7 linked regions of the Homo sapiens genome follow. The protein of the gene in region 7 purifies or fractionates together with the protein of the main gene of each other region. This does not show direct contact. Each region holds a gene or a part of one and is shown on either strand. Other genes may lie near its edges. The genes, in order: MON2, DOP1B, SLC25A46, ARFGEF3, FLVCR1, SLC67A2 and SLC2A9.

What was found.
Region 1: the proteins of SLC2A9 (region 7) and MON2 purify together in Homo sapiens (affinity purification with mass spectrometry; one large-scale study listed by BioGRID and IntAct). This does not show direct contact.
Region 2: the proteins of SLC2A9 (region 7) and DOP1B purify together in Homo sapiens (affinity purification with mass spectrometry; one large-scale study listed by BioGRID and IntAct). This does not show direct contact.
Region 3: the proteins of SLC2A9 (region 7) and SLC25A46 purify together in Homo sapiens (affinity purification with mass spectrometry; one large-scale study listed by BioGRID and IntAct). This does not show direct contact.
Region 4: the proteins of SLC2A9 (region 7) and ARFGEF3 purify together in Homo sapiens (affinity purification with mass spectrometry; one large-scale study listed by BioGRID and IntAct). This does not show direct contact.
Region 5: the proteins of SLC2A9 (region 7) and FLVCR1 purify together in Homo sapiens (affinity purification with mass spectrometry; one large-scale study listed by BioGRID and IntAct). This does not show direct contact.
Region 6: the proteins of SLC2A9 (region 7) and SLC67A2 purify together in Homo sapiens (affinity purification with mass spectrometry; one large-scale study listed by BioGRID and IntAct). This does not show direct contact.

The regions. Positions count from the first base shown.
Region 1 is NC_000012.12:62,532,826-62,536,325, forward strand, and holds part of MON2 (protein MON2 homolog), read left to right. Parts: intron 1-2,019; coding exon 2,020-2,101; intron 2,102-2,699; coding exon 2,700-2,884; intron 2,885-3,500. UniProt on the Homo sapiens protein: Plays a role in regulating membrane trafficking of cargo proteins. Together with ATP9A and DOP1B, regulates SNX3 retromer-mediated endosomal sorting of WLS away from lysosomal degradation.
Region 2 is NC_000021.9:36,233,324-36,236,823, forward strand, and holds part of DOP1B (protein DOP1B), read left to right. Parts: intron 1-3,500.
Region 3 is NC_000005.10:110,745,507-110,749,006, forward strand, and holds part of SLC25A46 (mitochondrial outer membrane protein SLC25A46), read left to right. Parts: intron 1-762; coding exon 763-840; intron 841-2,656; coding exon 2,657-2,757; intron 2,758-3,500. UniProt on the Homo sapiens protein: Transmembrane protein of the mitochondrial outer membrane that controls mitochondrial organization.
Region 4 is NC_000006.12:138,342,551-138,345,163, forward strand, and holds the end of ARFGEF3 (brefeldin A-inhibited guanine nucleotide-exchange protein 3), read left to right. Parts: 3' UTR 1-2,113; downstream 2,114-2,613. UniProt on the Homo sapiens protein: Participates in the regulation of systemic glucose homeostasis, where it negatively regulates insulin granule biogenesis in pancreatic islet beta cells. Also regulates glucagon granule production in pancreatic alpha cells.
Region 5 is NC_000001.11:212,889,275-212,892,774, forward strand, and holds part of FLVCR1 (choline/ethanolamine transporter FLVCR1), read left to right. Parts: intron 1-3,500.
Region 6 is NC_000002.12:102,719,889-102,723,388, reverse strand, and holds part of SLC67A2 (major facilitator superfamily domain-containing protein 9), read left to right. Parts: intron 1-3,500.
Region 7 is NC_000004.12:9,825,724-9,829,497, reverse strand, and holds the end of SLC2A9 (solute carrier family 2, facilitated glucose transporter member 9), read left to right. Parts: intron 1-2,897; coding exon 2,898-3,101; 3' UTR 3,102-3,274; downstream 3,275-3,774. UniProt on the Homo sapiens protein: High-capacity urate transporter, which may play a role in the urate reabsorption by proximal tubules. May have a residual high-affinity, low-capacity glucose and fructose transporter activity. Transports urate at rates 45- to 60-fold faster than glucose.

The sequences.
Region 1 (3,500 bases), on a different chromosome or scaffold from region 7:
ATACTTTTTTCTGACCTATTTATAGAAAAAGTTGCAGACATGATGCCGTATTACTACCCTTTAATGCATCAGTGTGTATTTTTTCAAAATAAGGTTAGTCTCCTGTGTATCATAGTACAATCACCATCAGAAATTTAACATCAATACAATATTATCATCTAACTCCAGGTCTCATTCAAATTTTGCCAGTTGCCCTAGTGATGTCCTTTTATGTGTTGAATTTAGTTGCCATGTCTCAACTTGGAAGTTTCTTAGTTTTTCCTTGTTTTATATGACCTTACTTTTTTGAGTACAAGTCAGTCAGTTTGAGTTTGTGTTGTGTTCCTTCATAATTACATTCAGCTTATTCATTTTTGACAGGACTGGCACAGAAATGTTGCTGTGCTGTACTTACTGTATCATTACATTAGGAAGCATACTACAGTATCAATTTGTGTCATTATTGGAGATGCTCACTTCTATGAGTTGGTTAATACAATGTCAGCCTGGTTTCTTCAGTGTACAGTTAATTATTAACTTTTTGTGGAAAAATACTTTCAGATTGCTACTACAAAAGAGTGCTTTCCCTTCTGCATTTTTTTATTTTTTAAAAATTATTCACTTATATTAGTGTAGATTCATGGATTCCTATTTTATTCAGAGGATTATAGTCTTTATTATTATTTGGTTTGATGCTCAGATTGTTCCCAACATGGCCAATGGGACCTCTTTCAAGATGACCCGTGTGTCCTTTGGACATGTCCCATGCCCTTTTGACATTCTCTGAGCACTTCCTATTTGATAGAACAAGATGTTCCAGGCTGATCTTGGATGATTCTTGTCCATCCCAGGTGTCAGTCATTTCTCCAGGAAGTCCTGGTTCCTTTTAGTGGAGAATAGTATTGAAACGAACACAGGTATACTAGGTATGCTTTTCACCACTTGGATAGGAAATACATAGCCACATACACACACCCCCACACACAAGCACACGTCTCTGTACATTTCTAAAATGTCTGTTTCTCTATATTGAATTACCATGACATCACACTAGTTTCTTCAGTTCCAGTTCAGTACCACAAGGTTTATTTTTAACTTTCTGTATTTGTAATTCCCTTCTCCAACAGTGTTGGAACCTGCTCACATTTTGCTCAGTGTATTTACTTATTTGCTTGATTCTCAGTGTATGTAATCAGTCTCCTGGCTGAGCCAGTTTGTTACACTGCGCCCTGCCCTCACTCCAACTGGTCACACAGGCTGAGAAAGTTTGGGTTGATGAAGGCAAAGGGAAAGGAAAGGATATCAGCTGGGCATAGTGGCATGTGCCTATAATCCCAGCTACCTGGGAGGCTGAGGCAGGAGGATTGCTTGTGCCCAGGAGTTTGAGTCCAGTCTGAGTAACATAACAAGACCCTGTCTCTTAAAAAAAAAAATGGCTGGGCGTGGTGGCTCACGCCTGTAATCCCAGTAGTTTGGGAGGCCGAGGTGGGTGGATCACGAGGTCAGGAGTTTGAGACCAGCCTGACCAACATGGTGAAACCCTGTCTTTACTAAAAATACAAAAATTAGCCAGGTGTGGTGGCGTGTGTCTGTAATCCCAGCTACTCAGGAGGCTAAGGCAGGAAAATCTCTTGAACCCAGGAGGCGAAGGTTGCAGTGAGCCAAGATCATGCCACTGCACTCCAGCCTGGGCAACAGAGCAAGACTCCATCGCAAAAAAAAAAAAAAAAAAAAAAAAATATATATATATATATATATATATATTTTATATATATATATAAAATTTAACGTGTACAGAAAGATCTTACCATAGATATTTTACAACAACTTATTTTTAAGACTTCTTCAAGCCTGAAACTATAGTACGGCTTCTGAGTTTTCGTTCTTTTAGATTTTTAAATACTGAATATTAGATTTAATAATTAAGTTGTTAATGGAATATTTGACATATTGTCTGGGAAAATTTTAGAATTTCACATATTAATACATATTGTGCTATCTATAATTAAAATTAAATATTGTATGTTTTTTTCCTTTAAGTTAGTAGGGCTGTTTGGGAAGAAATGGTGAATGCCTGCTGGTGTGGTCTTCTTGCTGCACTCTCACTCCTTCTTGATGCCAGGTATTAAGTCTTTGTAAGTTTTATATTGAACTGTGTCAGTTAAAAAAAACACATTAAAATGGTTTACTTACATTTGTCCCTAGAATTATTTTCTAATATTAGTTTTTTATATGTGTGAAACATTATTCTTTTTCCCTCATCCCCCTTCCTCATTCTGTCCTTGCCCTGCCCCAAGCCACCAGAATTGTCATGATGTTTTAATGGAAAATACAGTCCTAAAATTACAGAATGCCTTTTTCATTTCAAGACTTACAACTACTTTTGCAATTATGATTATATTTAATTTCTTTGTTCTTTTTCTTTAGGATTTAAAAATTTACTGGTTTCAAAATGCTTGATATTTTAAGCTAAATCTTTATGTTCTTGGTCATTTTCTTCAGTAATAAATACATGTATTATTATTCATTGCTTTTACCCAGTTCAAATTTTTGAGGTTATGTTAATAGATTAAAATTCCTTCTTAAGTATATTGGTAATATTTTGACAATATTTTTGTATAGATTTTCTTAAAATGTCACTGAATACTTAATTCCACATCATGCTTTACAATGTAATTAAAAATAAGTTAATCAGATTAAATAAAATACTTTCTTTTCAGCACAGATGAAGCTGCCACTGAGAATATTTTAAAAGCTGAACTGACTATGGCTGCTCTTTGTGGAAGACTGGGCCTTGTAACTTCAAGAGATGCCTTTATAACTGCAATATGCAAAGGTTCCCTGCCTCCCCATTATGCTCTTACTGTATTGAATACCACCACTGCAGCTACACTTTCCAACAAATGTAAGACAGGCTTACTCAAAATTCTCTCTATGTAGTGGGATGATATGGTGTAGACAGAAGATTATAAACATCTGAGTTTAAGTCTCTGCTTTTTCACATACTGACTGTGTGACCTTGGGGAAATTAATGTCCCTGAGAGCTCTTTAAAAATATGGGGTGGGGGGTGGGGGGTGGGCATGGGATATCCAAAAATCCAGAATCTAAAATGCTGCAAAATCTAAAACTTGTTGAGCACCAACATGACAAAGGAAAGGCTCATTGGATAAGTATATAATGTGAATAGGTATATAATGCAAACATAAGTATTTACAAATATATTATGCAAATAAATGCATAAGTATATATAATATAAATATTCAAAAATCTGAAATCGGAAACAGTTGTGATCCTAAGCATTTCGGATAAGGGATACTCAACTTGTAATACCAATTTTAAACAATAATTGTGAGAGGAAAATAAGATAAATCTGGAAGTCCTTTGTAAACTATGAGATACCATTGAAATGGTGATTGTTATTTTTTTTTAATGGAACTAGTAGAACAGTAATGTTTGTAACCACTTAGGTTAAACTTACATTCAAAAATTTATTTTCTTGTTGAATTCTTTAAGAATACTT
Region 2 (3,500 bases), on a different chromosome or scaffold from region 7:
CTGGGAGTGGGGTCTGGGTGGAGGCAGGGAGCCCATGACTCCTCCACTGCACTCACCTGGATTTAGCCTCTGCCACATCCAGCAGAGGGGTGGGAAGGTGACGTGCTGGTGGCCTGCCCCTCCCAGGAGGTGCAAAAGCCCTTGACTGGGAGCTGGGGAAAGAGAGCACCCTTTTGCTTGGCCACATGCACCAGAGTGGATAGTGACGTTTCCATGGAGCTAAGCTGGGGAAGGAAGGAGATGATGAGCAGGTCATGGCTCAAGTGCCATGACTCTTGCTGCTTTGACCGAAATGTCGTAGGTTTTCCGGAATAAATGTTTCTTTATTTCCTGAATGTCCTTTGGATAATTTCCAGACTCTAAATGGTTGGTTGTTGTTGGTTTTAAAATAATTTTCACCAGTTATGGTTGTGTTGCTTGGGAGAGGGTCTGTCTGTGGAACTCCTCACACCGCTCAGCTTTGGTTCCATGTGGGACACCATCTACGGTGTCAGGTCCTGGGGGAGCTTTTACTTAATTGCTCATTGACTTTTTTTGTTGTTGTTGTTGAGACGGAGTCCCGCTCTGTCACCCAGGCTGGAGTGCAGTGGCACGATCTCGGCTCACTGCAACCTCTGCCTCCCATGTTCAAGCAATTCTCCTGCCTCAGCCTCCCGAGTAGCTGGGACTACAGGCACCTGCCACCACACCTGGCTAATTTTTGTATTTTTAGTAGAGATGGGGTTTTACCGCATTGGCCAGGCTGGTCTCAAACTCCTGACCTCAGGAGTTTGGGAGGCCCGCCTCAGCCTCCCAAAGTGCCAGAATTATAGGTGTGAGCCACCGTGCCCAGCTGCTTATTGACTTTTGTACCACATTTCTTCTTCCTGCTAGAGTTGAGTCACATTAGATCTTGAATAGACAGAACTTGAAACCAGGACTGGAACCGCTATAAGCAGCAGTGATTAAGCAAGTGTCATCTTGGCCCTACATAGATCAGAGATCAGAAAATTTGGCATATTTACACTATATATAGGCACAGGGGAGAAAAAAGAAGAAAGAATTGAGATCATGAATCTTTGGAAAGGTACTCATAGAATAAAAGTGGCAGCATTAAATACATTCCTTTTATTTTGGGGCAGTGAGGGAAGCTTTTCCAAGTTCTTACTGAAGCCTTGATTTTTACTTTCATTTTCATGTAGTACATATTCAAGTACTTACCATTTGCCTGGCACTAGAGCATACTTTTCTTTTTTTTTTTTCCTTGAGACAGAGTCTTGCTCTGTTGCCCAGGCTGGAGTGCAATGGCATGATCTTGGCCTCTGCCTCCTGAATTCAAGCGATTCCCCTGCCTCAGCTTCCCTGGTAGCTGGGACTACAGATGTGCGCCCTCACACCTGGCTAATTTTTGTATTTTTAGTAGAGACGGGGTTTTACCATATTGGCCACGCTGGTCTCAAACTCCTGACTTCAAGTGATCCTCCCACCTCAGCCTCCCAAAGTGCCTTACAGGCGTGAGCCACCGCACCCGGCCAAGAGCATACTTTTTTTATTGACATGTAATATTGTATATATATATGGGTACAATTTGATATTCTGACACATTTATACATTGTATGATGATCAAATCATGGTAATTAGCATACCCATCACCTTAAGCATTTATCATTTCTTTGTTGTGAAAACATTCAGAACCCTCTCTTCTAGCAATTTGAAATACACAATGCATTATTGTTAGCAGTAGTCACCCTACTGTGCAGTAGAGTACCAAGATTTATTCCTTGGAGCACACTTTTATGTACTGTACAGTTCTTGAGAGTTGAGGACAGCGGCAGCTAGTGCCTGTCCCTGTTGCAGATGCTGGAACTAGAGACACAGCAACCTTACCCATAGCCAGGACGTGCCCCCAATTCTCAGACTCCAGACAGGGCTGTTGTCTGATCTTTCAGCCTTTTTTTAATCCTGCGGGAACAGCTCACATACCAGAGTTCCTGCTTCCCACAGTGCAAACAAGAAAAGGTCAGATAGCCCAAGGGTGCCCTGACCTTTCTTATCAGGTAGTGTTGGCAGATTTCAGATAACTAAGACAACACCCAGAACAGAGGAGTAGAGTAAGGTTTAAACATGTGAAGGAAGGCCCGGCTCGGTGGCTCACGCCTGTAATCCCAGCATCCAGCACTTTAGGAGGCTGAGGGCTGCTTGCTTGAGCTCAGGAGTTCGAGACCAGTCTGGCCAACACGGCAAAATCCCATGTCTAAAAAAAAAAAATACAAAAATTAACCTGGCATGGTGGCACACACCTGTAGTCCCAGCTACTTGGGAGGCTGAGGTGGGAGGATCACTTGAGCCAAGGAGGCAGAGGTTGCAGTGAGTTGACATCGTGCCACTGCACTCCAGCCTGGGGCACATAGTGAGACCCTGCCTCAAAAAAATATATATGAGGGAGTAGGTATGGATTTGTGATCGGCATCAACTCTCAAAAACCTTGCAAAAAAATTTTTTAAACCTTCCGGAAGGGAGTCTCTTGCATATATATTTGCCATAGTGACAGCAAGGAAGTCGGGGGGGGGGCGGTCTACGTAGTCAAAAAGTTATATATCAGAATTCAATTGTAATGTGATTGTTGGAAATCACTTTCCCTTAGAGAAAAAGTAACAAAATAATGGTTAGGAGTTTGAGCCAGTCAGTGGTTAACTTGATCTATGCAGAGAAAGACGGTTTTGTTGAGTAGAAATAAATGGGCCAAAGAAGTTATTTGATCTAAGTTATGCCTAAAATACTCCAGTCTATGAGATATAAACTTCATATAGTCTATGAAGTATAAGAATGTCTTTAGAAATTTAGAAATTTCCCTCCCGGAAGTGGGGACCAGCCCTCCTTCTGGGTCTCACCCTTGTTGGGGCAGGCACACTGGCTCCTGCTCCCTGCCACTTGGCAAGGGGCTGTAGCCCTTTGCAGACCATGCATGTTTAATGAGCTCAGTTCAGGGCTGGGAAGATGGAGGACACGATTTGGGGGTATAATAGTGTTTTGAAAGTGAGGCAGGCACCTGCCACAGCGTTGTGCAGGGAAAAGGGAAGAGTCAAGTTAGTGGAATTAAAGCTGGTAGGCGTGGCTCTTTATCCATGCTGCGTGGTAACCAATTCGAGCAGACCCCAGAGGTGACCAAGTGCTGTGGAGCTGAACCCCAGAATGAGTGATCTTGACAACCACTGTAAATTCACCAAACTCCCCAGAGGGTACATCTGTGCATTCCCCAGTGCCTGCTCGGCACCTGCCTGTTGAAAGAATGCTTCAACCCCTTTGGTCCAGTTTCCAGTTAATTCTCTTTCTGAAAGTAATGTTGAGGTTGAGGCAAGAGCTGCAGTGTTCTTAGTCGGCCAGAAACCTCCAGGTTTGACCTCCTATAACATTGCCTGCTGCCTGGATGACTTTGGTGGGTTTTTCCTTTTTTTCTTTTTTCTTTTTCTTTTTCTTTTTTTTTTTTTTTTTGAGACAGAGTCTCACTCTATTGCCCAGGC
Region 3 (3,500 bases), on a different chromosome or scaffold from region 7:
CCTCCCAAAGTGGTGGGATTACAGGTGTGAGCCACTGCGCCCGTCCTGTTATAACCCACTTTCTCTGTAAAGTAATGCTTCCTGTATTTGTTAGCTGTTAGAGTTCAAAACAGTATAAATCATTATAAATTAATCTGTTCATGCTTAGCACTGAAAAGTATGTATACAGAAATACCATTAAAGTAGCATTGACTGTATGTGCCACAGAACAGTGTATTTCAGATATATATTTTACATTGTAGTAATATTAACATGGAGATCCAATGGATACATTACATATAAGTAACAAATATATTATTTTTAAATGTTTTATGAAATAATACCATTAGAATGTAATACATTCTAATATTTTATTGTTTCACATAATAAATATTGTTTTGACACTCCCCCAGTTGATTTCATATACCAGTCAGTTGCCAAGTACAGTTTGAAAAATGCTTGCCTAAAATGAACATGAGTTGGGAGATGTAATTCAGTTGTTTAAGGCAAACCAAATATCAAATAAGACCCTCTTTATTATATAGTCTACAGTACTGTGTGTATTATGCATTGGTCTTCAGATTGTATTTATATAACCATACATACTGTACTTTTAATAGGTTATTTAAAGCACTTTTAAGAGTAATTTTGCTTATGTGTAATTTATGTTGACTTTGGAATTAACTTTTGTTTATACTGCAATTCCACCATATTTCTTTCATGGCTCTGTTATTTCTTGACAAAACATTAACAGAAAAAAATAATGAAATATCTTTTTTACAGGTTAATTACCATGCTCAGCATTACCATCTCACTCCATTTACAGTCATCAATATTATGTACAGTTTCAACAAAACTCAGGTGAGAATTTTGTCTGGATTCTATTAAAGGTTTATATAAGTGTCATTTGGGTTTAGTAATCATTAAAGCAAGAATAATTACTTTCAGTTTGGTCAATAAAACATCTTAACTGTTGTAGTAAAACTAAAGTAGCACAACGATATGTTTTTGAATCTTTCAAAATGTAATTTAGCAAAAGTACAATTTAATTTAGCAAAACCACAAAGAGCTGTGCTAAGATGATGTCTCTGCTATCAAGAGGCTCATATTTATTCATGGAGACAAAATCTTTGAAGATTGTGCTGCAGTAAGATAAAGGCAATATTAGAAGTACAGAATGCTGTCAGAATACAAAAGAGAAGTACCTTATCAAAACTGGGCTTGGGCACAGTGTATGGCTGGGAAAAACTTTGGGAAAAGAAAGGCCCGAATTGTGTGCTTCTTGTTGAGAAGTCTGACTCTTCATGATGAGGATAGAGAAAAGGTTTTTAAAGTAGACGTGTGAAGGCAGAAGACAAAGAGAGATCATAATGTTTGGGAATGGATTTAATGGAGTACAATGGGAGCTTGAAGTGGGGGTTGAAGAGTAAGAGAAAGATGAAAAAGTAGCCAGAGAAGTAAGCAGGATCCAGATTCTAAAGCACCTTCTAAGAACTGCACACTACTAGATCTTAAAAGCTACAAGAGTACTGTTGAAGGTGTTTTAGCCATGACCAAAATATCTTGAAGACCTTTGGATTGTTTGGCAATATCTATTAAAATTTAAAATGTACATGTTCTTTCACTTCCAGGAACTTATCCCACATAGATGTGCACATATATATGCAAAAATATATATACAAGGATGTCCTATGACATTGCATATAATAGACTGGAAATGATTAAATGTCCATCACTAGGGTACCAGTGAAATAATTATGGTATATTATGGTGAAACACCTTGTAACCTTTAAAAATAAGAGGGTAGCTCTGTGTATACTAATGTGGAATGATCTCCAGGATATTTTTTATGTTTCAAGATAATACTACCTGTTAAAAATAAGCAAAACAAAAATATTTCTATAACATACACACACAGATATACTTGTATATGCATGGATTATCCCGATAAATTTTAAAACTGCTGCTGAGGACTGGGATGAAAAGGAGACAGACTTTTCAGCTGATACCCTATTGCTTCTTTTTAATTCTATCATGTATATCTATTAATAATATAGATAATATAGATAAATAATAGGAGTATTACTGATGGTATCATGCAAAGGGGCAAAACCAGAGACAGTGAAACTTGTAGTCAAATTGATATAAAGTAATAGTGTTAAGTATGGAGAAGAGCATGGATTTGTAAGATACTAAGGGAGTAGAATTTGTAGAACCTGGGGACTGATTAGATAGGAAGAGTGAGATAAAAATGTTTTCTAGATATATTGTTTGGACACTAGGATGATGAAGCTGCTATCTAGGGAAATAGGAAATACAGCAGAGAAGGAAAGAATTGGTGTGGTATGAGTGAGTATGATTGGGTTAAGTTGTGGATATGTAAGTTTCAAGTTACCTTGTGTCATCCACAGGACAGGACTAGTAGGGAGTTGAATATATAGATATTAGGGATATTTAATAAATTAGTTAATCATTAGGGGTTTTAATTAATAGGAATGTTCTTCTTGGCCTAAGTATAACTTTAAAATGATATAAAATTAATTGTAGTTCTCTACTAATATTTCTATTAGAATAATGTTTTATTGGAAAATGTCTACACAATATCAAGTTTTATTAAGATCTTTTGTGTTTCAGATGTAGGTATTAACAGAAATAACATGAATTTTGTTCAATTTAGGGACCTAGAGCCCTGTGGAAAGGAATGGGAAGTACATTTATTGTCCAGGGAGTCACACTTGGAGCAGAAGGCATAATTAGTGAATTTACACCTTTGCCAAGGTACCATTTTTAGCATTTCTTCAGTATTAGTTTCATGTGGTGATGTGTTTTTAGATGCAGGCGGTACATGTGCAGGCTTGTTACATGGGTATATTGTGTGATGCTAAAGTTTGGACTTCTAATGATCCTCTCATCCAACAATTCTCAATTGTGTAAACATCATACCCAATAGGTAGCTTTCAACCCTTGTCCCCATCCCTCCCCTATTATATTGTTTTAATAATAAATAAAAAATACCTTGAATCTGAAAACTTGTCTGAAGTAACTAAAAGAAAAAACAAAGAATAAAATTAATTATATATTATTAAATTAGTATGTGATAAAGAAAATGTGTCTTGGCTTAGTATCTATTGAGATGTATCTTTCAGCTTCTACTGCTATGTGCCAGCAACTGCCAGCTGAGGAACAAATGTGGGTATGTGAGCAATTCCCGCTCTTTAAGTATTCATTTAATGAAGGAGACACATGTAAGCAAGAAGAGGTAACATGTCCAATGTCACGGGGTTGGACAGTCTAGGTAATAAAAGAAGTGTCTTATGTTTGGAATATTGGGTATGTATGAAATTGAATATCAGGAAAAGAAGCTGAGGTGCTACATTAAAATACGATTGTGCCTTTTTAAGTTTATTCTCTATGGGTTTGGAATGTGTTTCTTTTTTTAATATATAGATGTTCTGATCAAGATATATTCAAATGGCAGTATAAAATAAATGGAGTTGTATAGACAGATTTATGGAGATCTA
Region 4 (2,613 bases), on a different chromosome or scaffold from region 7:
TTTAGAAACATTGATTCTATGGATGATCATTTGTATCATGTTGACCCTTTGACTTGTACTGAAGGTGATTTTAAATTTAAGTATGTAGTGTTTGAATTTCTTCCATCCATGTCGTTTTAATGAGATGTTTCCATGTCAGCTCCTTTACAGCCTTGGCTCCTGGCTTACAGATTTTTGAATAGTTGTTTGCTTGCCAGTTGTTTTACATCTTTCATTGGCCACCAAAATATTAGCCATTTGAGATGAGATGAGACTACTTGTTGTACCTTCATCTTTCATTTAATTTTCTGGCGTAAATTAACATTTTAATTTCATATATATCTGTAAAGAGTCTACCCAAAGGCTTCACGGAAATTTGCAAAATGAACTAATTCCCTTTTAAGCAGCAGGTGTGCCTGTTTTTGACTTTTCAGTAAATATGTTGTTTGTGCACATATCTACATGGTGGAGACCATATTCATTATTTCATCTTCCAAATAATGGGAAAAATATAAAAGTGAATCAGTGTGCTTTGGGAATTCAGTGAAATCATGTTAACTCATATAGAGGGGGCCTTAGTTTATCTCTTCTTTACTGAATTAATTAGTTTTGGAAATTCTTTTACCATTAAAAAAAATTAAGGACCATACAGAGAATGATTTAAGAAAAAACAAGTCACTTAAAAATCATCACCTATTTATAAACTGTATTAATTACACATAATGCTTATTGATTCAATGAGGTTTCTCTAAAGACTTCTGCTTAATAAATATGCTGACTTCATTTAAATTAGTTTAGACTATTGTAGGAATGGAAGGAAATGATTATATTTACTAGAATTAGTGAGATCAGAAAGCATATCAGAATGTTGATGATATCAAGGAGACAATCTACAGAGTTTTTGCCTCTGTGGATGGAAATAAGGGTGTTTTTTTTTGGTTTTTTTTTTACTTTAGTTTCCCATAATTTTTGGAAATTATGTGTGCATTTAGTTCTTTTAGTAACACTGATTTTAAAATTAAATTTCAAAAGTCAATCTCTAAGAGTAATTTATTTTTGTTTTACCAACCAGTGCCAAAAAGGAGAGGAGGGAATCCAAAAGCCAATCTTTTGAACCAATGTGTAAAAGATTATGTTTTTTCTTAAAGTTAGGGAGGCTCGGGCCCTGACACTGCCAGCCCCAGTGAGCATCCCTGGCTACCTCGGGATTATGTGCAAGCTGCTTTGTCCTACATTTCTTTCATCTGGTTCTTATTGGGAGTGCTTCTCTCTAATAAAAATTGATTTCCCACAAAATAGGCAAAGCTGAACAAAGATGAATGCTTTTGATAAGTTGGGTTTCACTTCAGTTGAAACAATGTGATAGAATATCCAGGTGTGGCATGATGGGGCAGGAGGAGGTGCCTAGAGGGAAAAGTTATTTTTGTTTCTTAGTGTTGTGTTGTGGGGATGGGACAGATAAGAATAAGATGTTTATTGCCCTAATCATGCTAAGAGACTATTATTCAATATGCTTTTCCCGCTTTTCTAAGAGGAATAAACTTAGACAAATTACATTATAAACAGTTCCCCTACTACTATCTCCCACTCTAGATAAAGCCAGTGGGTGGTATGGGTCCTTTTATTCCTTATAGTATTATGCCAAAGAATCAACTTATTTTCATTGAAGATTATAAATAAATGAAGCTTGTTATAGCCATAATGATTTGAGTCAGTATACCATTTTACCTATAAAATGCAAAATTCATCCTTGCAACCCCATTCACCAGGAGCCTTGAAGCATTTTGTTTACTCCAAAGGCCTTGTCAAGGAAGCATAATTTTTTGTTTTGCCTTCTTATTTAGTCAGTTTGGTCATATTTACTTAAAAAAACAAACTGAAAATCACACTCCTTTATATGTTGATATAACTGATTTTATAGAATCTGTCTGTTCTTTGTTTAACAGGTCTCTGTAAGCAAGCTTGCAAGTGTATTTTGTGTACATTTTATCTGAGGTGGAAATGAAAATTCTAAAGAGAAAATATTTTAAAAGATATTGTATTTATGTTGCTTGTGTTGTAGAATAAAGATTCAAATGCATTAAAAATCTGGTACATGAAACAATTGTGTTTACTGAATAAATATATATAAATATCCTGTGTTTACAGAATTCTGTCAAAAGAATTAGGCCCCTTTTCATGGCATTTCATAAGTCTAAATGTAAAGGCCCATTTTAAATCCTGTAACATGGAGATAGTCATTATTGACAATTTGGTATATGCCTAAAAAACAAATTTGTAGAAATAATATATCATTTCCTTGTTTAAAAAAAGGGCTTATTCTATGATATTATCTTTTACTCATAAGAACTTATATCAAATTCCTACTGTCAGTAGATATTGATGTAGATCATTCATTTAAAAAATTAAAGTATTACCTTTTGTTCATAAACAACCAAAAATCCAATTAATAAGAATATTAGTATTTAAAAGTAATATTAAAAAATACAGCCACTTTTAACTTCCTGATCTTACTAGATTATTGTTTTAAATACACATATATCAAAATATCACACTATACCCCATAAATATGTACAATTAATGTAATTAGTGATGTCAATTAAAAACAAAATTTTTTGCATGGTGGCTCATACC
Region 5 (3,500 bases), on a different chromosome or scaffold from region 7:
CCTGGCAAAAGGACTTGTGTCATGTGTTAATTTTCATATATATTGCTTCTCAATAGCTTGACAGAACTCAAGGGGAAAAAAATGAGATAAAAAGCAGGACATTATTTGTTTTCTTCTAAAGACATGAATCTCTTACTTCATTTTGCAGATTTCAAATTCAATACAGTTACTCTGCATAGCAAGCAAAACTGTTATAATAAGAGTAGTAAAGGCTGGGTGTGTTGGCTCATGCCTGTAATCCCAGCACTTTGGGAGGCAGAGGCGGGCAGATTACTTGAGGTGAGGAGTTTGAGACCAGCCTAGCCAACATGGCGAAACCCCGTCTCTACTAAAATTAGCCAGTTGTGGTGGCGCACACGTGTAGCCCCAGCTACTTGGGAGGCTGAGGCAGGAAAATTGCTTGAACCCAGGAGACAGAGGTTGCAGTGAGCCAAGATCACACGAGTGCACTCTAGCTTGGGCAACAGCGAGACTCTGTCTCAAAAAAAAAAAAAAAAAAGAGTAGTAAAGACCTGGAGTTGGGAAGACCTGGCCTCAAATTCCGATTCTGTTGCTCAGTGGGAGTGTGACTTTAGACCCGTTGCTTAACCTCTCAAATCCTCCTTTCCTTATTTATATAATAGAGTGTTAAAGCCTGCTTTATAGGGTTACTGTGAGGATTAATTGAAATGGTTCATGAAAAGTTCCTAGTGTCTGGCACCTGGGACGTGCCTAACATGTGTTACTATTGTTATAATGTGGTAGAGATGGTAAGCAGTCAAGTGGTAGTGGTGGAAATAGTATGTGGAATCCTTAGCTAGTGCTTATACTTCTTAGGTATAGTCATCATAGACATGGGCAGGAAAGAAAATAGTGCTCAATCTCCAGAGAAAGAGAATGTCAGAGAATTTTTATCCATAGTTTGCCCATGCACATGGGTGTACAATAGATTTGGAAGCAGAACTTTTTCCAGGTGCATACTTTTAAAATGTCATCATTCCCTAAACATTATAGTATAACAGCTATTTACATTGTATTAGGTATTAGTAATCTAGAGATGGTTTAAGTACATAGGAGGATGTGTGTACGTTATATGTAAATACTTCCCAGGGGCGTCCAATCTTTTGGCTTCTCTGGACCACATTGGAACAAGAAATATCTTGGGCCACACATGAAATACTCTAATACTAATGATAGCTAATGAGCTAAAAAAAAAAAATTGCAAAAAATCTCATAATGTTTTTTAAAAATTTGTGAGTTTGTGTTAGGCCACATTCAAAACTGTCCTGGGCCACATATGGGCTGCAGACCACAGGTTGAACAAGCTTATACTACACCATTTCATATAAAGGCCTTGAGCATTCGTGGATTTTGGTATCTGAGGTGGGGTCTTGGAATCAATCCCCCGCAGATACCAAGGGAGGTTGTGCTTCGTTGATCTGGTTATAACTTAGTTGGAGGATCTGGTTATAACTTAGTTGGAGAATCTATCAGAAGGATGTGAATCAGAATTTCTTCTACTGTTTGTGGAATACCTGATCATTCTTTGTGAAACCTTCAATATGAAATCTCACCAGTGATAGACATTTTGGATATACACAACTACCTAAGGTCGCTCACTCAATTGTATGAATGATAGGAACCTGAGCATTCATTCACGAAGCTAAAAGAAAGTGAATGCACTCTGTTTCCTCAAAGAAAAACATCTTATCACAGGGAGTTTTTCCCCCTGTCCAGTTAGTAAAATAAAACATACAAAACTGTGAAATATGTAATACATTAACTGCTTTAACTATTGTTCTTTCATAAGTAATTCCATGTTGGTTCTTAATTCCTAGGCAAGTACTATATCTTATCTAAGATTATTACTATTGGCTGGACGTGGTGGCTCATACTTGTATTCCTAGCACTTTGGGAGGCTGATACAGGTGGATCATTTGATGTCAGGAGTTCAAGACCAGCCTGACCAACATAGTGAAACCGTGTCTCTACTAAAAATACAAAAAACTTTAGCCAGTTTTATGGGCACACACCTGTAATCTCAGCTACTTGGGAGGCTGAGGCAGAAGAATTGCTTGAATCTGGGAGGCTGAGGCAGAAGAATTGCTTGAATCCGGGAGGCGGAGGTTGCAGTGAGTGGTGAAGATCACACCACCACTCCAGCCTGGGTGACAAAGTGAGACTCCGTCTCAAAAAAAAAAACAGTATTATTGTTATACCAAAGAAGGGAGCAGTTTTGTAATCCTCCTTCAAATTACTTTTACAAGAGATTCATGAATACTAATTCAAACAAATCAAGTCTAGAAAATTAAGAAGTGAAAATAGATCTTTAAAATTAGTTTTACATTGATGCTTTTACCATCTCAAATGGTATTCCCTGAGGCACAACAATATTGAAATCAGGGCCCTGATTAATACCCCCAAATTATTACCCCTACAGTGGCCTCCAGGTGTTTAAGCAAAAGGAAGAGTAGTAAATCTCTCCTCTTAAATCAGAAGCTAAAAATGATTAAGCTTAGTGAACAAGTCATGTCAAAAGCCCAGATAGGCCAAAAGCTAGTCCTTTTGCACCAAACAATTAGCCAAGTTGCTAATGCAAAGGAAAAATTCTTAAGGGAAATTAAGAATGCTACTCCAGTGAACACAAATGATAAAACAGCCTATTGATATGGAGAAAGTTTGAGTGGTCTTGTTAGAAGATCATACCAGCCACAACATCGCCGTAAGCCAAAGCCTAATCTAGAGCAAGGCCCTAACTGTCCAATTCTGTGAACGTTGAAAGAGGTGAGAAAGTTGCGGAAGAAAAGCTGGAAACTAGCAGAGGTCAGTTCATGAGGTAAGGAAAGAAGTTGTCTTCATAACATAAAAGTGCAAGGTGAAGCAGCAAGTGCTGATGTAGATGCTGAAGTAGGTTATCCAGAAGATCTAGCTAAGATGATTGATGAAGGTGGCTACAATAAACCACAAATTTTCCATGTAGATGAAACAGGCTTATACTGGAAGAAGATGCCATCTAGGACTGCCATAGCTAGAGAGGAGGAATCAATGTCTGGCTTCAAAGGACAAGCTCATTCTCTTGTGAGGGGTTGATGCAGCTGGTGACTTCACATTGAAACTAATGCTTGTTGACCATTCTGAAAATCCTAGGGCCCTTAAGAATTAGGCCAAATTTTCTCTGCCTAAGCTCTAACAATGGAACAATGAACCTGAACCCCGTAGTTGATAGTACATCTGTTAGTAGCATGGTTTGCTGAATATTTTAAACCCATTGTTGAAGCCTGCTACTGAGAAAAACATTCCTTTCAAAATACTACTGCTCATTGACCAATTCACCTGTTTACCCAAGAGCTCTGATGAAGATGTACGAGGAGATCAATGTTGCTTTCATGTCTGGAAACACAGCATCCCTTCTGCAGCCCGTGGATCAAGGAGTAATTTCAACTTTCAAGTCTTATTCTTTAAGAAATACACTTCAAAAGGCTGTAGCTGCCAGAAATAATTATTCCTCTCTTGGATCTGAG
Region 6 (3,500 bases), on a different chromosome or scaffold from region 7:
CAAGCGATTCTCCTGCCTCAGCCTCCTGAGTAGCTGGGATTACAGGCATATGCCACCATACCCGGTTAATTTTGTATTTTTAGTAGAGACGGGGTTTCTTCATGTTGGTCAGGTTGGTCTCGAACTCCTGACCTCATGCGATCCGCCGCCTCTGCCTCCCAAAGTGCTGGGATTACAGGCGCGAGCCACTGCGCCCAGCCCAAGAGTTCTCTTTTCTCCACATCCTCATTAACACTTATCTTTTAAAAATATGTCTGTATTAGCCCTCCTAACATGTGCGAGGTGATTTTTCGTTGTGGTTTTGATTTGAATTTCCCTGATGATTAGTGACATTGAACACCTTTTGTTTTTCCATCAGCCACTCCTTGGAGAAATGTCTATTCAGATTTTTTGCCCATTTTTAAACTTGGTGTTTTTTTGTTTTTGTTTTTGTTTTTTTTGCTGTTGAGTTGAAGGAGTACCTTGTATAGTTTGGATATTAACTCTTTATCAGATGTATGATTTGCAAATCGTATCCACTGTGCAGGTTACTTTTTGCTTTGCAGATTGTTTCCAGGTTGCTTTTTCACTTTGCTGATTTGTTTCCATTGCTGTGCAGAAGCTTTTTCGTTTCAGGTAGTTCCACTTGTCTATTTTTGGATTGGTTTTGTTGTTATACCTAAGAAATTATTGCCAAGGTCAATTTCAAGAAGCTTCTACCTTCTTTTACAGTTTCAGGTCTTATGTTTGTCTTTAATCCATTTTGAGTTGATTTTTATCTTTAATCTATTTAAGTTGATTTTTGTAATGTGATGTGAGGAAGGGATTAATTTTATTCTTCTGCATGATACATATTTTAGTTGCAATTTAAAAGGGAAATATTTTATTTTTAATGTATTTAATATAAATTTAAATACAATTATGGAAGTAAGAAAGAAGACTATGCAATCTCCTGCTACAGACCCCCAGTTGTTTCTATCATGGTAATGCACATGCCTCACAGCTGGCACAGTGGTAGGTGATGGGCAGACCCTGCCCCTCTCTCTGCCTTCCTCCATACATTCTGGCCATGCTGGCTTTCTGGTCTACCATATGTATGCCAGGCTCATTCCCATAGGAGGGCATTGTACCAGGCCTGTCTTCTACCTGCCACATTCATCCCACATCTGTTATTGGCTCTCTCTTTTCAGCATTCAAGACTGAAATATCTGCTTCCTTAGGCCTTCTCTGACCATTCTGCCTAAAAGAGCTTAATTTTCTTCATAGCATTCTTGAAATTATGTTATTAGTTTGTTTTACTGCTTACGTTCTCTTTGTTCCCCCAAATCAGTAGGCAGACTCCATGAGGGAAGAGATTTTGTCAGATTTACTCACTGCTATCACCCCTGTGCAGAATACACATTGGGCCGGGTGCAGTGGCTCATGCCTGCAATCCCAGCACTCTGGGAGGCTGAAGCGCGAGGATTGCTTGAGCCCAGGAGTTCAAGACCAGCCTGGGAAAGATAGTGAGACCCTGTCTACAAAAAATTTTTTTTTAATTATCCAGGCATGGTGACACATACCTGTAGTCCCAGATCCTCGAGAGGCTGAGGCAGGAGGATTGTTTGAGCCCAGGAGGTCAAAACTACAGTGAGCCGTGATCACACCACGGCATTCCAGCCTGGGTGACAGAGTGAGATCCTGTCTCAAATAAAGACATACATATATACATACAGACACACACACAGACACACACACACACACACACACACAGGACTATGAGCTCCTTGGATGCAGGGCTGGTTGCTTAAAATGTCTTTCTTCTTCTTCACTTAGAGAGTGGTGCATGGCTGGCCCTTGGATAAATGACTTCATAAACGAGAATTCATGCTAGGCAGTTTTCCTTACATTTAATGATATTGTACTTTACTGCAGCTTTTTGAATCTTCATATTCAAGGTTCTCTTTTGCATGATGATTTCCTTATTGGGTTAGGATGTCAGACCCAGGAAGCAAAGTTCATGAGCTTATTCTCAGTCCTCACAGAAATACATTATGATTTGTTGCCAGGAATTTACTTAGCCTGTAACTTGAATCAGGAGGGGTGCACATAAACCTAGATAAAAATCTCAAACACATGCCTCGTTGATGTGACCAGGTATCTTCACATATAAAGGAAGGTACATGAATGTGGTATCACTCAAAATTGAAAGTCAGCATATAACAAAGGAATTGGTTATGGAATTCTATTTTGGATCCTTCAACAATAGTGCCATTTAATATGTTGCCCTATCTTAAGCCTATAAATGGGTCTAAGCAGTTAGGAAAACATTCCGCTGCAAGTGTTCCCAACTACAATGGCTTCAAGGAAGAGGGACTTGTTTTTCCAACATAAGAAACTTGAGGATAGGCAGGCTGGGGCCAATAGAATAGCAGAGGAGGAGAGGGAGGATGACCTGGCTAGACAGCACATACTGTCCCACCCAGGGCTTTGGCCATTCAGTGCAGTGAACATATCATCATGCTGCTTTCTCATTCCAGTCTTGCCATCCTTTACCCCTGAATGACTATAGCTGTTTTCGTCAACGCTTTTACTCCGTTAGCTTCTTATATCCTCCTCTGATCCGCCACTTTGCCTGAGAAAGCCTTTTCATTGTGATTTCTGTTCATATGGTTAGGAACTCCAAACTCTGGAATCTGACAGACTCAGGTTCAAATCCCTGCTTTGCCAGTTTTTAGTGTGACCCTTGGGCAAATTGTCTTCCATTTTTTCATCTATAAAATGGGGTAACAAAACACATAGCCTTGTTATGAGAACTGTAAGAGGTTCTGCATACAAGCAGCTTACCCCAGAGCCTGAGGTAGGATTGCATAGACCTTGTCTTGTTTGTTAATATTTTCTTAGCGTTTCACACTTACGAACTCCATGAATATTGGAAGGTTGGACAGATGGATGGGTAGGTGGGTGGATTGCTTATAGTAAGCACTCAACAGAAGTTAGTTGCCATCATCATCATCATTTTTATTATTTTAATTCTACTTTTTTAGTTCATCAGCAATAATTCTTTCACATCTTTATCAATATTCTGTGTAATGTTCAAGGGCCCTTTTAAGATTGAATTATTAAAAGTCCACATCCTCCACATTCTCATGTGGTTGGTTTTCCGTTGTAAATTTGTCTATGGCTGAAGCACTTATACAATATTTGGAGAAATGACACACAAATGAAGTTGCTGAAAACAACATGAAGCAGCACTGAATAGCCACTGGTCTGAGTTGAACTTTTAAGTGCTCTTTAGCACTTAAAAAACAGTAGGATAGAGTTTGGAGGGATGTCCTAGAATGGCAAGTTTGAATTCAGTTTTAAGAACACTTTTGGGCATGGATTGGCAAGAGATCAACAGGCAAGAATGTGCTAGTCCTATGAGGACAGAGGTGGGATCATCTGAGTGGCGGTTAGAGCCACTGCGTAAGGTTGTATATGTTGTGGTCTATGAGAATGGTGCCCCCTGAGGTTTTGCAGGTGTGACCTGCACAAGCACT
Region 7 (3,774 bases):
TGTTGCTCTTCTTTTTTTTTTTTTTTGACATTTTTGTCATGAAATCTTTGCCCGTGACTATGTCCCGAATGGTATTGCCTAGATTTTCTTCTAGGGTTTTTATAGTTTTGGGTTTTACATTTAAGTCTTTAAGCATCTTGAGTTAATTTTTGTATAAGGTGTAAGGAGGGGGTCCAGTTTTAATCTTTACCTCAGTCTCTCAAGTAGCTGGGATAACAGGCGACTGCCACCACGCCTAGCTAATTTTTGTAATTTTAGTAGAGATGGGGTTTCACAATGTTGGCCGGGCTGGTCCTGAACTTCTGACCTCAAGTGATCCACCCACCTCAGCCTCCCAAAGTGCTGGGATTACAGGTGTGAGCTACTGTGCTCGGCTGAGCCACATGTTCTTGACTGAATTTTGTGAAACTGTGAGAATAATCCTCACGACACCCATCAGGTCCCTTGGGAAAAGAAAGCCAAGCAAGAGGCAGCTGTGTGGGTGTCAGAGAGGTCCTAGGAAGCCCTGTTTGTGGCCTGGGATACGGCAGGAAGCCTCTCTGAGCCTCAGTCCATCCATCCACTCACTAAGATACTCAGAGCATCTACTGTATATCAGAGACTCTCCGGGCTCTGGGAATACAAGAAAAATGATGACTCCTGCCTTCAGATAGTTACCTCTTGGTAGGGAGAAGGTTAATAAACAGGCAGTTGCACACTATAATGCTGCATAGTGATGAGTGTTTTTGAAGGCAATGAAGCAGGGCTGGGAGGGGCTATTTCAAAATGAGAGTCAACGAGAACCTCTCTGAGAAAATGACCTTTAAGTCGGATGAAGAGGAGTAAGAAAGCAGGATATACAGAGGCCTAAACGAAGATTATTCCAGCAAGAGAGAACAGCATGTGCAAAGATTCTGAGGCCTAATACTGGAGGGAAATCATAAAGGCAGTGGAGTTGGGGCAAAGAAAGTGAGGAGAGTAAGATCAGAGAAATAAGAGGGACACATGGTCGGTGGCCTTGGAGGCCATGGTGAGGACTTTGGCTTTCCTGCAGGTGACTTAGGAAGTCATGGTGGGTTTTGAGCAGAGGAGTGACAAGTTTTGTCCTTTGTTTAACAGGATCACTCTGGCTTGTCTGTTAAGAATAATCTTAAGATTATGCTTAAAGTGAAAAGCAGGGAAATCAGTTGACAAGCTATTGCAAAAATCCAAGCAAAACATGATGGTGGCTTGCACCAAAATTAGGTTACAATAGAAGTGATGACAAACCCTCAGATTTGGAATACATTTCAAGGTGGAGCAACATGATTTCCTGATGGAGCAGATGTGGGTGGGAGAGAGAGAGAGAAGCTCAGCCTGCCTCCAAGTGTTTTTGTTGGCATAATCAATCAGAAGGATGGAGGTGCCATCAGCAGAGATGAGGAAGGCTAGAGCAGGCAGTTTTAGAGGCTCCACTTTGGACTTGATAAGTCAGATGTCCATTCCGCCTGCAGATGGGGGTGTGGAGGATGTTGAATGCAAAATTGATATATCTCATTTCATCTTCAAAACAATGTGTGGGTATATATCACCATGTTGCAAATGAGGAAACAGATGCTCAGTGGATTGAAATTCTATCTTAAATGGCACATCATAAGTGTTAGAACAACATGTGAGTAATGGGATCAGGATTTGAATCCCACTCGACTGGCTTCAGAGCCCATACTCTCCCCCTTCTCCACACTACTCTTGAAGTCTTTGTACGAGCAGAAGGCACAGTCTCAAGAGCTAAGCACCCCCAGGTGTGGAACATTTACTGCATGTGGCACTTTAAAGGGAATGTCTCATTTAATTCATACAACAACCCTACATGTACCATGATTATCCTCTTTTTCAATCATGGAAACTGAGGGACAAAGAGTCTCAGATTTAGTAAATGGTAGATCTAGGATGTGATCCAGGGATCAAGCTTAAGCACTTTGCCATTCTCCAAAAATAAATGTTTGTCAAATCAAAGAATAGAATGGAATTGACTAAAATCTGGATATTGCTTCTTGGGAAATATTATTCAAAGACAGTGTCACCTTATCTTTGGATCAGTAGATGTTTGTTGCATATAATAGTCACAATCCTGACAGCTGGGACCCAGAAAGTCTTTTATTTCTGGAATGGTGGCTCATGCCTATAATCCCAGTACCTGGGAGACCAAAGCAAGCAGATTGATTGAGGCTAGGATTTCAAGTCTTTTATTCCACAAATATGTCCTGAGTACCTCCTATAAGGCACAGGAGCTACAGAGGTGACTGAGTCACTGAGAAGCTCAAGGTCTAGTGCAGTTGGCAGGGTTATTCTAGTCCAAACACTAATCAGGATACATAAAACGGAGTGATTGCATTGAGCATTTCTATTTTTTCTGATCTCTCTTATTTGTGCAAGGCCGCCTCAGAGTATCAATTAGTGAGTTAGATCATTTGCATATTAGAAAAAACTGGCATTACCTTGGCCTATTCTGTGCTCCACATTCTTCCTATGAACTAAGGCATTTCTCTTCCCTTTTGATGTCATTCTTGTCTCATGTGTATAGTAGAAGCAAGAAGACAATGTGGTTAATTGTAAATATAAGCTTAAGCTAATATTCAGCAAGCATTCCATTTTGCTTTCGTGATGATTAATTTTTAAATGCCAAATTTGCAACAACAACAACAAAAAAGTGCCATTTTCTCATCTTTCCCAGAGTTTGAAGCTGATTTATTCAAGCCTTATGTGATAACACTTCATGTAGGGTACACTTGCCTTATTGAGCCAGCATCACACATGGTGTTTTGTCTAGGAGTATTGGTATATGAATGTGGAGCTATCTTAAAAATCTGTGTAGAGATGGTTTAACAGCAAGTTTACTGATTATCTATTTGAGGGTTTTTGTCTCTGCCTTTCCACAGAAAAGTCTGGACACCTACTGTTTCCTAGTCTTTGCTACAATTTGTATCACAGGTGCTATCTACCTGTATTTTGTGCTGCCTGAGACCAAAAACAGAACCTATGCAGAAATCAGCCAGGCATTTTCCAAAAGGAACAAAGCATACCCACCAGAAGAGAAAATCGACTCAGCTGTCACTGATGGTAAGATAAATGGAAGGCCTTAACAAGTTTCCTCCTCCACGTTGGACAATTATGTCAAAAACAGGATTGTCTACATGGATGATCTCACTTTTCAGGAAACTTAAAATTTACCCATTATTGGGAAGCTTAAATGAATTGAAGCTATGCAAGTCTTTTATATTATTAAATATTTAAAAGTAAACCTGTACTAATCTAACATTGCAACTGTGTTAGCATTATTCACAACTGAATCTCCCAAACCCTTCTGGAAGCTGCAAGGAATCACTCTATGTTTCAGTAGACCCAGCGTTCTTCTATATAGGTAGATGACCTGCCTTCTTCATGACTCAACCCATGATTTCAAAATGAAATTGGGGAAATAGTAGGTTAATGCTTTATCAAAGAAAAATCAATTTGGTCTGATAGGGGACTCAACGGATTAGAGATCACAGACTGAGGTTCTAGTCCCAGCTTTACCACAAGCAGCCTTGACCTGCCCTCAACCTGGATCCCAGTGCCTCAATGACCCTAGGCTTCCATCCCTGATATAGGCTTTCAGAAGTCAGTGGAAAGATTATTCATAGTGCCTAAGAAATGCCTGTTTCCAATATTTGACCTTGTGGATCTCAGGCTTTGGAGAGCCTAATACCAACACACCAGCCTGCAGATTTTGTCTTTCCCAAACTGTGTTCCAGGAATGGGCTCAAAACTTCAGGG